Regions from separate parts of the Homo sapiens genome. Here region 2 is linked to region 1. A link means that fine-mapping ties the variant in region 1 to the expression of a gene that starts in the linked region. Tissue or cell type: tibial nerve. Region 1 holds a variant in brackets; the other region holds the start of a gene. All regions are shown on one strand. Distances are from middle to middle.

What was found. PIP is the estimated chance that this variant, and not a neighbour inherited with it, causes the effect.
Region 2: it holds the start of B4GALNT4, and the variant in region 1 is fine-mapped to the expression of B4GALNT4 in tibial nerve (GTEx, PIP above 0.99). The same link has a PIP of 0.9 or more in atrial appendage.

Annotation. Positions count from the first base shown.
Region 1 is chr11:387,930-396,098 of GRCh38, forward strand. It overlaps PKP3 (plakophilin 3), which reads left to right and starts at 6,280. Exons shown (of 13, transcript NM_007183.4): 1 at 6,280-6,595. The coding sequence starts at 6,364. RefSeq lists an enhancer at 5,733-6,495. The variant C/G (reference allele first, on the strand shown) is at 3,521.
Region 2 is chr11:365,181-373,349 of GRCh38, forward strand. It overlaps B4GALNT4 (beta-1,4-N-acetyl-galactosaminyltransferase 4), which reads left to right and starts at 4,319. Exons shown (of 20, transcript NM_178537.5): 1 at 4,319-4,774; 2 at 6,929-7,032; 3 at 7,482-7,574; 4 at 7,672-7,767; 5 at 7,846-7,936; 6 at 8,011-8,111. The coding sequence starts at 4,624. RefSeq lists an enhancer at 2,852-3,390.

The DNA.
Region 1 (8,169 bases):
GGGGATCTTGGCAAGTTTTCAGATGGCCCTGACAGATACATGGAGGCTTTCCAGAACTTAACCCAAGTATTTGAGCTCTCCTGGAAGGATATCATGTTACTTCTGAATCAAACCCTGACTGCTGAAAAGCAGGCCACCCCGCAAGCGGCAGAGAATTTGGGGGATGAGCTGTATATCTTATATAGGGCCAGGGAAGAAGAGAAGCTTTATCCAATTGGATGAATAGCAGTACCATTGGAGGACCCTAAATGGGACCCCAGTGATAAAATGGGAGAATGGAGGATGAAACACTTTCAGATGTGATACTGGAGGGCTTGTGAGGGAATGGGACTGGGCTTCTCATTGCACTTGGCTGGAGGGCTTATGAGAGAAAGGGGCTGGGCCTCTTGATTGCACCAGGCTGTCCATGGTAGAGCAGGGATTGGCCCCACTGCCTTCCTGGGGGATGGCAGGGGCCTTGGTGAAGTGTGCCTCTCTGTCTCCTGACTCAGTCAATGAACGGCTGGTCCTAGGGGATGAGGAGATGAGTTCATTGCACAGGCGGCCCCTGATGTCAGAAGGAGGATGCGGGAATGGGCTGTGGGACCAGATGGTACTTTGGGGGCATCCTGGGAGGGGCCACCTCAGTTTTTTCCAGTGGGAACCGGGAGGAAGTCCAGAAAAGAGAGAGGAGATATAGGAAGAAGGCAAAGGCTCTTAACAGCTGCCCTGTGGGCTCATGGACCCCAGGATCCCTAGATACACCTGTGACTGCTGCAAATGTGTTGGGCTAGGGCCCCACAGGAGGGTTTCCAGACAGTGCAGGGAGGAGGGTCCTTCATGAGGGTTTCCACACAGTGCAGGGAGGAGGGTCCTTCAGGAGGGTTTCCACACAGTGCAGGGAGGAGGGTCCTTCAGGAGGGTTTCCACACAGTGCAGGGAGGAGGGTCCTTCAGGAGGCTTTCCAGACAGTCCTGGGAGGAGGGTCCTTCAGGAGGGGCTTTCCAGACAGTGCAGGGAGGAGGGTCCTTCAGGAGGGGCTTTCCAGACAGTGCAGGGAGGCCACCTTGACCCTGTCCAGTTTGCCTTGGGGACTGTAGGGTCCAGCCCTACGGGGCTTAGTGGGTGTTCTCCCCATGTGCGGAGACCAGAGATTGTAATAAATAAAGGCACAAGACAAAGAGATAAAGAGAAAGCAGCTGGGCCTGGGGGACCACTACCATCAAGACGCGGAGACCAGTAGTGCCCTGAACGGCTGGGCGCGCTGATATTTATTGCATACAAGACAAGGGGGCAGGATAAGGAGGGTGAATCTTCTAAGTGATAAGGTGAAGCAAGTCACCTTACGGTGACCCTTCCCTCTTAGGTAGCCGAAGTAGAGAGGAAAGGCAGCATACATCAGTGTTGTCTTCTATGCAGTTATAAGAACGATCAAAGACTTTAAGACTTTCACTATTTCTTCTACCGCTATCTACTACGAACTTCAAAGAGGAACCAGGAGTACGGGAGGAGCATGAAAGTGGACAAGGAGTGTGATCATTCAAGCACCACAGGGAGGGGGTTAGGCCTCCGGATGACTGCGGGCCAGGCCTGGAGAATATCCAGCCTCCCACAAGAAGCTGGTGGAGCAGAGTGTTCCCCGACCTCTCCAAGGAAAGGAGACTCCCTTTCGCGGTCGGCTAAGGAACGGGTGCCTTCCCAGGCACTCGCGTTACCGCTTGACCAAGGAGCCCTCAAGCGGCCCTTATGTTGGCGTGACAGAGGGCTCACCTCTTGCCTTCTAGGTCACTTCTCACAACGTCCCTTCAGCACCTGACCCTATACCCACCGCTTATTCCTAGGTTATATAGTAATGGAACAAAGAGTAATATTAAAAGCTAATGACTAATAATGTTTATAATAATGATTGATAATTGTCCATGAGCATCTCTATATCTAATTTGTATTATGACTATTCTTATTCTATTTTCTTTATTATACTGAAACAGTTTGTGCCTTCAGTCTCTTGCCTGGGCACCTGGGTCATCCTCCGCCCACAGGGGACCGCTGGAGGACAGACCATCCCTGGAGACGTGGGTTGCCGGACCTCGGGCCAGTCTCCCAAATGGTACAGCAGGACTGATGGGTCCCCAGCCTCCTCTCCCCAGCTACAGTCGTCCAGACCACCATTGCCATCCAGGAACCCCAGGGATTGTAGGGGTCAAGGGAAGGAGGATGGACCTCGTCCTGGACTCCAGAGTTCTCCTCTCCAATCTGGGCCCCCCTCCCCATCTCTTGGCACAACTGTGAGTGGCATCTCAGGCCTCCTTCCTCCACCATGTCAGGAATCAACACAGTCTTGTGAATACAGGGACCTCTCCATGGAGGGGTTAGCTTTTTTCCTTTCAGAAGGCACCTTCTTAGGCCAGGCCCCCGATTCCCAGGACTTCCCTCCTCCGCCTTGTTTGAGGAGGACCTGGCCCCACAGCGCCACCTGTTTATAACAGGAAAGCAACAGGAGCGGCCGCCACCTGTTAGCAGCTGCAATTTGGTGAGGAACACTTGGGGCTAACTGAATGGGTCCACACACCGTCCTGAGGCCAGACCCCAGGAGAACCCCCGGGAGATGCCCCGCCTGCCTCAGACAGACGCCCCCTTCCCCAGAGGAGCGCCGGGGTCCTGAGGCCAGACCCCAGGAGAACCCCCGGGAGATGCCCCGCCTGCCTCAGACAGACGCCCCCTTCCCCAGAGGAGCGCCGGGGTCCTGAGGCCAGACCCCAGGAGAACCCCCGGGAGATGCCCCGCCTGCCTCAGACAGACGCCCCCTTCCCCAGAGGAGCGCCGGGGTCCTGAGGCCAGACCCCAGGAGAACCCCCGGGAGATGCCCCGCCTGCCTCAGACAGACGCCCCCTTCCCCAGAGGAGCGCCGGGGTCCTGAGGCCAGACCCCAGGAGAACCCCCGGGAGATGCCCCGCCTGCCTCAGACAGACGCCCCCTTCCCCAGAGGAGCGCCGGGGTCCTGAGGCCAGACCCCAGGAGAACCCCCGGGAGATGCCCCGCCTGCCTCAGACAGACGCCCCCTTCCCCAGAGGAGCGCCGGGGGCATAGCAAGAGCCCGGGACTCGTCTGATGAACGAACAAGTAGTGGACGGACAGATGGACAGACTGACCAACAGGCCGGCAGTGGACGGGGTGTGTGCAGATGAAAGGTGTCCCCCCCAAGAGCCTACAGGGGCCATACCCCTCAGCTACTTTCCATGCCAAGGACCAAGGCCAGAGACCTCAGAGCTGCCCCAGCCACAGGCGCGGGGCAGGGGCCACACTCCACAAGGTGAGGGGTGGTGCCCATGGGCAGCCGGGCAGGCTCCGTGGAGGGGCTGGACTTGGCTGGAGCCCAAGTCAGAAGGTTTGCAAGCGTGGGCGCCAACAGGAAGCGCCAGGACGCTTGCCTCTGGGTGAGCTGTGCCCCCACGCCGGGTCCATCAACCACCAAGGGGCTCCCCTAATGCACTCCGAACCCCGCCCCTGCAGGCGGTGGGACCTGAGGCAGCCTCCCAAGCCT[C/G]TCTGTGCACCGGCTCACTCCTGAATTCGGCTTTGACTATATTTTGCTTCCAACGTCCTCACACCTTTCTCCCCAGATCCTCCCCCTTCTGCTCCTTAAGACGACCACCCCAACCCCCTCCACCCACGCAGGCTCTGCCCTGGAGGTTTGTCTTCTGTGCCCTCCCACAACTCCGGGCACGCACCTGGCAGCTCTGCCCACGACCTGGGCCCAGCCGACCTTCTCTGTGAGCGCCTCCCGTGCCCCCCACGCTGAGCCCACCATGCCCCGAAGCCCTCCTGCGCCCTCTCCCACCGCCTCTTGGGAGGTGACTGACAGGCCACACCCCACCCAGGACCCATCTAAGAGCAGCGCTCACTCACCCTTCGAGGCCCTCAGGTTCCAGGCTCTCAACCTGATTGTGCACCCAAGCGGCCCGAGGCTCCGTGCAGATTCCGGGCCCCACAGACAACCGCTTCCTCCAGGAAGCCTACCGTCAAGCCCCCCTCCAGGGCTCCTGTGTCAGGAGCTGGCTCCAGGGAGAGTGCGACCCTCAGGGCTGGTCACAGGGATCAGATGAGACTCCGCCGAGCCTGGAGCTGGAAGCTGCAGCGGTGGCCTAGCAGGCATCGCCATCCGTCTGGCCCGGCCGCAGTGAGGGAAGGTGCACCCCAGATTCCTGGCTTTGCCAAAACTGTGCCTGGCGGGCACCACGCATCCTCAGGGAGGCGCCGCAGCTCTGGGGGGGGGCACCCACAGCCCTCTCTGCCAAGGGGAGGAGGGAAGGTGGGCAGAGTCGGCCCTGGGGGCCCTGCAGGCCGCGGGGTACCGGCGTTCCCATCATAGCTCCAGCCGCACGGAAGCCCCTTCACTGAGTCCTCTTGTGAGCCCTTCGGCCTGACTGGGCTGCAGAGGCCCTCCAGGCTGGCTTCCCCCTCATGCCGCCCAGCCTGGCCCCTGCAGGGCCCCAGGTGGGCCTGGGGTGGACCTGGGTGCAGGGCGGGACCCAGCCCATGCCAGGCACATACCTCCAGGCCCGCTCTGCGCCGCACAAACTTGTCTCCCAGGATTTTTCCACACGAAACCTGTCTCCCAGGGAATCAGCCAGTCCGATGAGCTGGGCGTTCCCACCCCGCCCTCCGAGGCCCCCACAGTCCTGTCCCCGCCGCAGAGGCTGCCCCGCACGCGCCGGGCCAGGGATGGAGTCCTGGACACCTCGGCCGTCAGCAGTGGCCTCTGGGATGAGCTGGGAGGCTGGCGGGATCCGGACCACGAGCCGGGTAGGTCTCCCACCCCTTCCCCACCACCCCGACCCCACCTGGTGGCCCCAGCCCGGGCCTCACCCATCCTTTCAGTGGACCTTCCCCTCCCCCTTTAACCCCCCACGCTGACCTCCGACTCCTACTCTCCAGCTTCCTCCCCTCAGAACTGACCTCACCCTTAATGCTGCCTCCTAACCCTGACCCGGCCCTCACGCCAGACCCCTGCCCCAGCCCCATTAAGGCAAAAATCTTCCAGGGACGGAGCTAGGGGGCAAGGGTCTGCCCTGGAGGAGAGCCCAGAGCCAGGGTCCAGGGTCCAGGGAGAAGCAGAGGCTGTCCGATGAGCTCGTGAGAGAAGCCCAGAGGTTGTCATAGATGTTCAGCTCCCACCCCCAGCCCTCCTAGGCTTATCCCCACCCCCATCTACCAGGGGCTTGTCCCAGAGGCTAGAGGGCCTCAGAGCCCATTTGCTGGCTGTGGTGCTAGAAGGAGACCTTCTGGGCACAAGCCCTGCTTGGTCCAGGGCCCCCCCACCAGGGGCCCCCCACTACCCCACCCCCACCAGGGGCCCCCCACCCTCGCTCCCTCTCCATCCAGGCCTCTGCTCTTCCAGACCCCTGGTTCTTCCCTGCACACCCGCTCCTGCCCCAGCCTGACATGCGCTGACAGGAGTGCAGGCCCTCTGAGTCAACCCCCTGGGGCGGCCCCGCCCCCCTGCACCCTGACTCATGTGCTGGGAACGGCCTCCCACCCCAGGGCCTGGGGTGCAGGAGCAGTGGTGCCAGGGTCCCAGAAGCCAGAGAGGGTTTTGGAGGCCTCTGTAGGGGGTGAGGGGGTCCTGGGGGTGAGTTCCAGGGTCTGCAGGCTTCGGGGGAGGGCCGGTCCATCCACATGCTTCCTGGTGCGGAGGGGGCTCGCTGGATTCCAAGGACCAGGGCCAGGGCCTCCATGGAGTCCCGTTGGACCCTAAAGCTCTGTCCCTCCAGCCTTTGTCCTGATCCCTGGCACTGACCCCTGACTCCCGACAGTGTCTCCTGCCAACCCTTCCTAGGCCTCATCCCCACCTCACCAGGAAGGCTGGGCTACCATGGAGGCTGGCTGATTCTTGGAGCTACCTAGGGCCCTAGACCCCCAGGGACTGGGGCACCCTCCCCTTCATGCTGGGGGTGGCAGGACATAGGCCCCCCGCAGGCCCCCTGCCCTTCCCTGACACTCAGGACACAGAGGGCCCCTCTGTCCCAGCCCCACGACAAAGGGCCCGGTCTGGCCTTTACAGGCTGAGAACAAGAAGGACCCAGGTCCCCGTGGCCCTGTTGTGGGATGGGAGAAAAGGAGGCGGGAGGCCAGGCTGGGACCTGGGGCCATGCAGGGCCTGTTCTTCCGCCCAAATTCCACCTTAAGCAGGCGGCGGCCCCTCCCTCCCACCTGGCCAGGTGTCCCCGCCCCCAGCTGCGCTCAGGGCTGGGCAGGCGTCTGTCTTCAGGCGGCTCTGGGTGAGGCTGGCTGGGCGGGGACTTCAGGGAGAGGGCCTCGAGGGACAGGACGTGAAGATAGTTGGGTTTGGAGGCGGCCGCCAGGCCCAGGCCCGGTGGACCTGCCGCCATGCAGGACGGTAACTTCCTGCTGTCGGCCCTGCAGCCTGAGGCCGGCGTGTGCTCCCTGGCGCTGCCCTCTGACCTGCAGCTGGACCGCCGGGGCGCCGAGGGGCCGGAGGCCGAGCGGCTGCGGGCAGCCCGCGTCCAGGAGCAGGTCCGCGCCCGCCTCTTGCAGCTGGGACAGCAGCCGCGGCACAACGGGGCCGCTGAGCCCGAGCCTGAGGCCGAGACTGCCAGAGGTAGGCGGTGGGGACAGCGGCGGGGATGGCGGTGGCGGGGAGAGGTGGCTGCGGGCGGACGTGATAGTGTGAGGGCAGAGGCCGCAGTGAGGCCGGCTCCTGACTCACCAGGCCTCACACTGAGTCACACACCCCGCCCCAGGGGCGTGGGGAGAAGCCATGGGTGGGGCTGCCCTGTCCAAGCAGGGACCCCGGGGTCCTCCAAAGACTGAGCCTGGCCAGGCCCCACCTGTGCCTGGAGTCCTGGAGCCATCCCTGTGGGGGATGACAGGGAAGGTTGGCACATGGCAGGCGGGCCAGGCCACTCGGTCGGCAAACCCGGAACACGCACGCGCCTGGCCCCGGTAGCACAGACTCACATAGGGTCTCAGGGACACCCAGACACCCACGCTCCTCCCATACCTCACGGGAATGAGCAGAACGGGAAAGCGGGGAGAGGTGTGGGGGTGCTGGAAGTCCTGGAGGAAAGCCAGGCCTGTCTGGACCAGGGGCTCCCTGAGGAATTAGAGGGGAGGGCCCGGCTGGAGTGACCTAGATTTCTCTGTGGGAACAGCAGGTGGAGGAGCACCCCTCGGTGCCAGCCAGACCCACCTGTGGCGGAATCCTGGCCCCACTCACGCGAGTGTGTGTGCATGCGTGTGAGTGTGAGTGACAGGAGCACAGACGCTGTGAGTTGAAGGCAGTGGTTCTAGGAACGCCATTTCCTCCTTCCCAGGCTACAGCAACAGGGATTAAGGTTAGACAGTAAGATGGACCTCCCAGAATGCCAGGGACCCAGATGCCAGTTCATCATGGTCCACTTGGTGTTTAGAGGGGCCTTCCCCAGGACTGGCCTCCAGCCACTGGCCAGGGGGAAGTGAAGGTCGCCCAGCGGAGGGGCCGGCCCGGCGGCCTGGACTGTGGGGTCCTCCCTCCAGGGGCCTCAGCCTTGCTGGTGACCAAGTCGGGTGCCCAGGGGTCATGGGGTGGAGGACGGTGAGGGAAGGGTTAATTACCACCCTGGCTGCCCTGCCAATTAGAGGGAGGTGGATTATAATTGGGGGGTGGGGGTGAGGTCCCCAGGCTGGGGCGTGCCCCCACTCCGGGCTGGGCCTCACGAGCGTCAGAGGGTTAATAGCCCCGGCCCAGAAGCCCCATTAACCAGGGTGAACCTGGGGCCTCTGCCATGGGGGTGTCCCCCACAGAGCATCCAGCTCTGGGCAGAGTTGTGGGAGGGCCACGGCCCCTTTCCCTGCACCCCACCCTGAGCCCCTCAGCCAGGTCGCTCTGGTGGGCCTTCTCATGCCCCCACCATCAGCCCATCCTCTCTGCACCCATCCACGAGTCCATCCCTCTGCCCACTCACCATCCAACCATGGGACCCTGTCGTCGACGGCTGTCCCACCCCTCCATCCACCACTCTGTCCATCCTTCCAGCAGTCACAGCAGCCCTCCCATCCTCCTCCTGCCTGTCCCTCCATCCACCCTCCGCCCTCCACCCTCTGCCCACCCACCTGTCTGTCCACTCACTGTGGAGTCGGGCTGACGCAGCTGCCCTTGGCGTGTGTGTGGCTGGACGGGGTGGGTGTGGCCCC
Region 2 (8,169 bases), 23 kb before region 1:
TGCCCTCAATGCCTCTGCCCAAACCACCACCCCACACATTCAGAGCTCCTCGTCCACCCACGGGGTGCTCCTCATGGCGGCATCGCCATTGTCCTGGGGACAGCAACCGGCCGGTGCTCCTGGAACCCACAGATCTCGCCGTGTTCCTGATGGAATGGCCTTTGGGAGGCTCAGTTTTGGCACCAGCTGAGTGACAATGCTGTGGATCTGGGGTCCTCTGGATGCAGCGGATCCACTGAATCAGCACTTAATCTCTGGCTTTTCCCAAAGCCGGGGCTCACTGGTCCAGGCGTGGAGGAGTGGAAACCCCAACTTCTTCCCATTGTCGTTAATCCCCAGTGAGCCACAAGTGAAAGTTTTGCCCCCTGCAGTGTTGCACGCTGTTGGTCTAGAGGCCTCAGATTCCCAGGGACCAACTCATCCCAGTTTGCTTAAGACTTTGCCGGTCTTATTTTCATTTTTTTATTTTTTATTTTTTTGAGGCTCAGTTTTGCTCTTGTTGCCCAGGCTGGAGTGCAATGGCACGATCTCGGCTCACCACAACCTCCGCCTCCTGGGTTCAAGCAATTCTCCTGCCTCAGCCTTCCTAGTAGCTGGGATTGCAGGCATGCACCACCATGCCCAGCTAATTTTTTATTTTTAGTAGAGACGGGGTTTCTCCATGTTGGTTAGGCTGGTCTCGAACTTCCAACCTCAGGTAATCCACCTGCCTCAGCGTCCCAAAGTGCTGAGATTACAGGCGTGAGCCACCGCGCCCAGCCGACTTTCCCAGGTTTAAAACGGAAAGTTCCATGTCCTAGGAATCCCCTCGGTCCTGGGAAAGCCCTGGAGTGTTTCCACCAGGGGACACGTTACGCAGGAAGCTGAGACTGCCCACCTGGACGCCGGTTCCTCACACCAGGGGGTCGACAAAGAAGAGGGTCCCTGTGCTGGTCCGGCTGACTGAGCCCAACAAGGGGAACTTGGAACCTGATCACAGAATGGGGCTAAGGGGGAGAAATTTGGGAGGCAGGAGATCGTCTGTAATATCACGTAGCTCCTCTAAGCCTTGCAGAAAACACCACTGGAAAACCAGAACCACCCCATAAGGCAAAACTGCTAACAGCATAGGCCTTTTGGGAAGGAACGTTTGGGTCACCCCACCAGACAGTGAACCACGACCAGCAGAGGTGCTTGCAGAGGGCAAAGGGACCACGCAGGAGTGACGGAAGAGCGTGGCCATAAAGACTGTACCAGCCACGACCTGGTGACCGTAGAAGTGAGTACTTCTTATCCTCACACAAGTCACACTTGTACTGACATTATCCGTTCTTCCTGCTTTTTTCCTCTTCCATTGCCCTCCTAGCTGCATAAAATGCGTTAACAACAGTTAACTTTACATTTCATCTCAGTATTTGTGTCATCCAACCCCCAACATGCACTTTGCAGTGTCAAGTGTTAAACGCTCTTAGAGAAACTAGAAGAACGAGGATCGTCTTCTCAAATGTGGATAACATGACACGAACCTTTTGTTCAGTCCCTTCTGGTTGGAATATTTGCATCATGTTACGTAGAAGCATGACTTTGTTTTTTGCTTTATTTGGAAGTTAAATGTGTTTTTTAAAAGAAGTGTGCGTCTGTGCTGAGTTGTCAAGAGGAGGAACCTGCCAGGTTGTTCTCTCTTTTTTTTTTTTGAGACCGAGTCTCGCTCTGTCACCCAGGCTGGAGTGCAGTGGCGCGATCTCGGCTCACTGCAAGCTCCGCCTCCCGGGTTCACGCCATTCTCCTGCCTCAGCCTCCGAGTAGCTGGGACTACAGGCGCCCGCCGCCACGCCCGGCTAATTTTTTGTATTTTCAGTACAGACAGGGTTTCACCGTGTTAGCCAGGATGGTCTCGATCTCCTGACCTCGTGATCCGCCCGCCTCGGCCTCCCAAAGTGCTGGGATTACAGGCGTGAGCCACCGCGCCCGGCCAGGTTGTTCTCTTATTCTAAGCTGGAGACCCATTTCCCAGAACCTTCTCCTCTGTGGCTGGGTCACACCGAAGTGAGGCGGTGGCCGTTCTTCTCCAGAAGGGGCCGAGACGGATGTGGTAGCATATGGAGCATCTGCGTCCGGCAGATCCCAGCTCGCCCCTCAATTGTACCTACTATGCTTTGGATCCACAGGGGACACCCTCTGACTGTGGACCCATGAAGTGTCCCAAACACGTCTCTCCCGACATTGCCAACACTTGCCTTCTAAGAACCTGTTTACGGGTCAGGCCAGCCGTTGCCTCCCCAGAGAGCGACCCTGGAGCGGGAGCCGGCCTCCCTCCATCACCCAGCTCATCTCCTTCACGTCACTCACCACCAGCAAAGCGACTATGCGTTCACTGGTCTGTCCCTGCCTAGTAACATGTAAACTCCATGAAAGGAGGGCCCTTTTCTGTCTTGCTCACTGCTGTGTCCCCTAAGTCCCTGGCTCGTCAGGACACTAGAATACTAGGTAGCGTCCACTGGCTGGATGAATGTGCCTAGGATGGGGTGCCATGCAGTGGAAAGAGGGAAAGCATTAGACGCACAGCCAGACAGATGCACATAGAAAATATGGGACTTGGAGAAACAGAATGAGACACATAAAAGAGCACCACTGGCCGGGCACAGTGGCTCACGCCTGGAATCCCAGCACTTTGGGAGGCCAAGGCGGGAGGATCACTTGAGCCCAGGAGTTCAACGCCAGCCCGGGACACATGGTGAGACCCTGAATCTGTTAAAAAAAAAAATACAAAAAATTAGTCCGGCATGGTGATGCATGCCTGTAGTCCCAGCTCCTCAAGAACCTGAAGTGGGAGGATCGCTTGAGCCCAGGAGGTCAAGGCTGCTGTGAGCTGAGATTGCACCACTGCACTCTAGCCTCAGAGACACAGTGAGACCCTGTCTCAAAAAGGGGTGGGGCACTATATTTTAATGAATATGCAGATAACAGAAATATGAAAAGTGGACTGCAGGAGGCAGGAGATGAGGAGCTGATGGGGTGGGGGAAGGTTTGAGAGACCGGGTGTTGTTTAAGGGCCGGTATGAACAGCAGGATGTAACCAGCTTGCTTCTGTGCTCAGAAGTTAGGGGAGGAGGATGGAGGGGAAGGAGGGAAGGAGTTGAGGTCTTAAGAAGGCAACTTCTGGGCAATCTTCCATTGTGAGGTGGGGTCCACGTCCCCACAACCCACGAACTTGGGTGGCCGTGCGGCATGTGGCAAACCTGAGGGGTGACTCCAAGATGCTTCACTCTGTGTGCTGGACCGGGAGGCTGCCCCTGGCAGCTGAGCCTGCAGGCGCTCTGGCCAACCACCCGGGGTGAGCCCAGCCATTCCTGCCGAGGGTGCACTGGCTTGGGGCAGAAGTCTCTGGATGGCTCCAGCCTGTCCCGCGGAGCCGGCCCCACCACTCACGTCTTCCCACCGGAGGCCAGCACCTCGAGGAGCAGAGAGGAGCTGTCCCCGAGTGCCCTGAGTTCCTGACCCACAGGACACAGGAACACAGGAACGCTGCTGTTGGACAGCACTGAAGCTGGGCGGTTTGCTACACACCCAGAGACAGCTGAGCAGACAGAGGGAGAAGAGTAGGGTCACGCTGGCAGCTGGACAAGGGAAGTACTGGGGGGACAGAGGGACTGGCAGGGGTTGGTGCAGACCAGGTGAGAAAGGGCACGAAGTGGGACAAGGTCCCGGTGAGAGGCACGACACTGTCACCTGCCTCAGGCCGCGCTCGGTGGGGCGGGGGCCACCAGCTGAGGCCCCTCCTGCCGCCCAGACAGCTCGGCCCCCTGCGGCCCCAGCCCTGCAGGCTGAGATCCCGCAACGACTCCCACCCCTGGGCTGAAGCCGGTGCTTGGGCCCCCCCGCCCCCCGGCCTCTCTCGCCCGCCCCCATTCCCCGCCCCCCAGGACCCCGGGTCCCTCCCCTCCCTCCTCCGTGTTGTCCGCCTGCAGTCCTTCGGGTCACTGTTCTCGGGAGGCCGCCCCGCCCCACAGTCAGGCTGTGCCCATCCCCCGCCGCCCCCCACGGTCCCCGAGCCCCAGCGCTTCCCAGCCCCGCGTCTGTGTGCCGCGCCCCCGCGCTCCGTGGCCCAGGTGGACGCGCGCCCCGCGCCCCGCATCCCTGTCCGTCCCGCACCCCTCACCCCCCGCCCCGCACCCTCCGCACCCCCCGCCCCGCCCCGCCTCCCCTCGCCCCGCCTCCTCCGCCCCGCACCCCGCGCCCCGCCCCGCCTTCCCGCGCCCCGCACCCCTCCCCGCGCGCCGCCATTGGCTCCCCGCGGCCTGGCTCGGTCCGATTGGTTCCGCGCGCGCGGCCGGGGCCCGATCCGCGGTGGCAGCCGTGGATGCTGTTCGGTCCCGCCGCCGCCCCAGGAGCGCGGAGCCGGGAGCGGCCGGGCGGGGGGCACCGCGAGGAGCCGCCCCCGCCGCCCACCCCGGGCCCGCGGCCGAGGGCGGCCTGGGGGGGTCGCGGCCGCACCCGGTGGCCGCGCACGGCGGACAAAGGACCATGCGGGGCCGCGGGCGCTGAGCGCGGCGGGGCGGGCCGGGGATGCGGCGCGGGGCGGGCGGGGGCCGGGGGCTGCAGCGGCGCCGCTGAGCGCGGCCTGGGGCGGGCGCGGCGGCCGCGATGCCGCGGCTCCCGGTGAAGAAGATCCGTAAGCAGATGAAGCTGCTGCTGCTGCTGCTGCTGCTGAGCTGCGCCGCGTGGCTCACCTACGTGCACCTGGGCCTGGTGCGCCAGGGACGCGCGCTGCGCCAGCGCCTGGGCTACGGGCGAGGTACGGCGCGGGGGGCGCGGGGGGCGCGGGGGGCGGGGGCGGCGCGGGGGGCGCGGGGGGCGCGGGCGGCGCGGGGGGCGCGGGCGGCGCGGGCGGCGGGGGCCCCGGGGCGCGGGCCGGGCCTCCCACCGCACAGAGGTCTCGGCTGGGCCCGACCCTCCCGGAGACCCCGCCCGCTGTTCTCCGCTCTGCGATTTGGGGGGAGGGGGCGCGGTTCGGCTCGGCCCGGACGCTCGATGACGTCGGCAGTGACGCGCGCGACCCTCCCAGAGAGGGTCCCTGACTCTGGGATCTGGCTTGGATCCGGTAGTGAGGGGCTGACGGTGGGCTCCTGGGGAAGTCTCTGCCCCTAGACCCTGCTGAGGCTTCCAAGAGGCCTTCTCAGGCCTCGCCTCCACCCCCTGCCCGCTTAGCAGGGCCTCAGTTTCCCTGTGTGCTGGGGACCCGGGCCGGGGCTTGCTGAAGTGGCCGGTGCAGCTGGGACGCTTCCCGGCGGGGGCGCCTTCGGTGAACTGTGCCAGTGTTGTGGGGGTCCATGCGTAGGGATGGGGCCCAGCTTGGGGAGCCTGGCGTAAACTCTCCCAACCCCAACCCACAAACAAAGCAGATGGGGTCACGGTGAGCCAGCCGGGGTAGGGCCTCCTGGAGATGGTGATCTTTGACATACACCTTTGGGGGAAAGAGCATTCCAGACAGGAAGGCGCAGATGAAAGCCTGGCGGTGGGGTTGGGGGAGAAGGTGGGGCAGAATGCCCCCTCTGGAGGAGGGAGGTTAGTGCCATGCCCAGACCAGGAGAGACCCCAGCTGGCTGCCTCTGAGCCTTTTCCAGGGAGCCAGGTGTCCTGAGGGGGCAGAACAATGATACTGGCTGGGGACTCCTGGGCCACTCCACCTGCCAAAGCCCCTGTGTTCTCTTCCTGTACCGGGACGCCTGGACCCACACAGGCCAAGGGTCTGGGGCTTGTCCCAACCCACATACCTCACAGCTTCCACACCCTCAAGAGACCCCCGATACTGCTGAATCCCTAAAAAGCCCCACCCCAGCTATCAGCAGACAGGGCAGGATCCACAGCTGGCCCAGTGACACAGAACAAAACCAGCCCCCTCTGCAGGCTCCTCTGTGGTTTTCTGAGCAGCGCAGGGGTCTAAGCCCAACCAGGAGGGGGCGGAGGCATAGGGACCCCTCTTCCAAGGACCCCTTGAGGCTAAGCCAGCTCCGCCCCAGGGCACCTGTACACTTGCTACCTCTGAGGCTAGGGCCAGGACCAGAGGAGCCCAACAGCTGCCCAGGGAGAGGGCGAGTGAGCAGACTGTTCTGTCGGGGGACCTGGGGCCCAAGTCAGGGGAGCCCTGGGGGACCCTTCCCAGATCTGCCTGTGGACATCTCTACTGCCTCCCCACAAGCCTGGGCAGGCCAGCTCTGCACCCCAGCCCTCTCCACTTCCTGGACCTCCCTAAGCTGAGGACCTAGACATCCCCACTGCAGCCCCAGGGGGTTCCACGCCCTGGGATCTGAGCATCTGTAGGGATGCTTCTCTTCACCCCAATTCTGCCCCTCCTGGTCCTCCTACCCAAGGACACTCAATCCAGGGCCACCCTCTGCTCCAGGGCCATGCCTGGGCGTCAGCATCCATGCCTGTTCCTCAGTCCAGACTTTGAGAGCTCAAATCCTTCAGGAGAGACTACAGTCCCTGGCACTAACCCTGAGTTCTCAGTTCTGGTAAGGGAGGCAGACGTGGAACACTCCAGCACACAGAGAAAGTGCTGAGGGCACAGGGCAGTCCTGGGGTCTTCCTGGAGGCAGAGCCACTCAACAAGAATGGCCAGATGGAGGTGCATGTGGGTGCCTACACACGCCAGCTGGCCCACCCGGCTTTCCTCCCTCACACCTGCTGGAGGTTGGGAAGAGCCTGCTGGAAGGCTCAGCCTGGGCTGCCCCACCAGAGGTGGGGTGTAGAAGAAGTTGCCTTGCTGGGGGGAGGGGCATCTGGTGGCAGAGGAAGCAGATGAGAAGGAGAGGCTTTAGTGAGAGACACCACAGCCTGCCTGCCCTGCTCTGGCCATGTGGGTCCCTGGCCCAGCTGAACCCAGCAGCAGGCAGAATGGCCTTGGAGAGAGCCTGGGCCCGAGACAGGCCTCATGTGCCACCTGCAGATGGTGAGAAGCTGACCAGTGAGACCGACGGCCGGGGGGTCCACGCTGCGCCATCCACACAGAGGGCTGAGGACTCCAGTGAGAGCCGTGAAGAGGAGCAAGCGGTGAGCAGAGCCCTGGGGAGAACACGTGTGCACGGAGACGAGACCCCGAAGCCACTTGTGTGTTGGTGTCTTGAGAACCTGTCCATTCTGGAGGACGCAGCAGGGGGCATGAGACACAGGACATGTGGGGCACGGCACAGCTTGTCTGTGTGAGCTCCAGCACCAGCCATCCTGTCTGGAGCTCTGTGTCTGGGGGCTGCAGCAGGTGCATGAATGTGCCGGCCGGTCAGTGTGTGGGGTGGCCAAGCATCTGCTTGGGCTAGAGTGACCAGGGTGTCTGAGTGTATGTGCCAGGTGCCACAGGTCAGGGTTTGCATGGCTGGGGCTCACGGGCATTTAGGGCTGTGTGGATACATGTTGGAAGGGGTCTTTGTGAAGGTTTGTCTTGGTGTGTGTGACCTCCTCCCTGCCCTTCCAACCCTGACCCTGTTGCCTTTTCTCTCCTGCAGCCCGAAGGTCGGGACCTAGACATGCTGTTTCCTGGGGGGGCTGGGAGGCTGCCACTGAACTTCACCCATCAGACACCCCCATGGCGGGAGGAGGTGAGCTGGCTCGGCCTGTAATGGGCTGGGAGGCAGGGCGGGGGCTGGGGCGGGGGGGCGGCGGGCCGTGCAGAAGGTAAGGCCCCCCCATCCCCAGTACAAGGGGCAGGTGAACCTGCACGTGTTTGAGGACTGGTGTGGGGGCGCCGTGGGCCACCTGAGGAGGAACCTGCACTTCCCGCTGTTCCCTCATGTGAGTGCCGGGGTTGGGGGGTGCCGGGTGGGCAGGGCACGCAGGGGGCTTCGACAGCAACAGTCACTGCCCCCCCAGACGCGCACCACCGTGAAGAAGTTGGCCGTGTCCCCCAAGTGGAAGAACTATGGACTCCGTATTTTTGGTTTCATCCACCCGGCGAGGGACGGTACGGGGGTGAGGGTGCCCCGGGGGAGGGGTGCCGTGAGGCTCCACCCCCCTGAGCCTAGTCTTGTGGACTAGGAGACGTCCAGTTTTCTGTGGCCTCAGACGACAACTCGGAGTTCTGGCTGAGTCTGGACGAGAGCCCTGCTGCTGCCCAGCTTGTGGCCTTTGTGGGCAAGGTACCCCCACCCCAGCCCTGGTGTCGTCCCGGGCCTCCTGCAGCTCAGTCACCTGTGC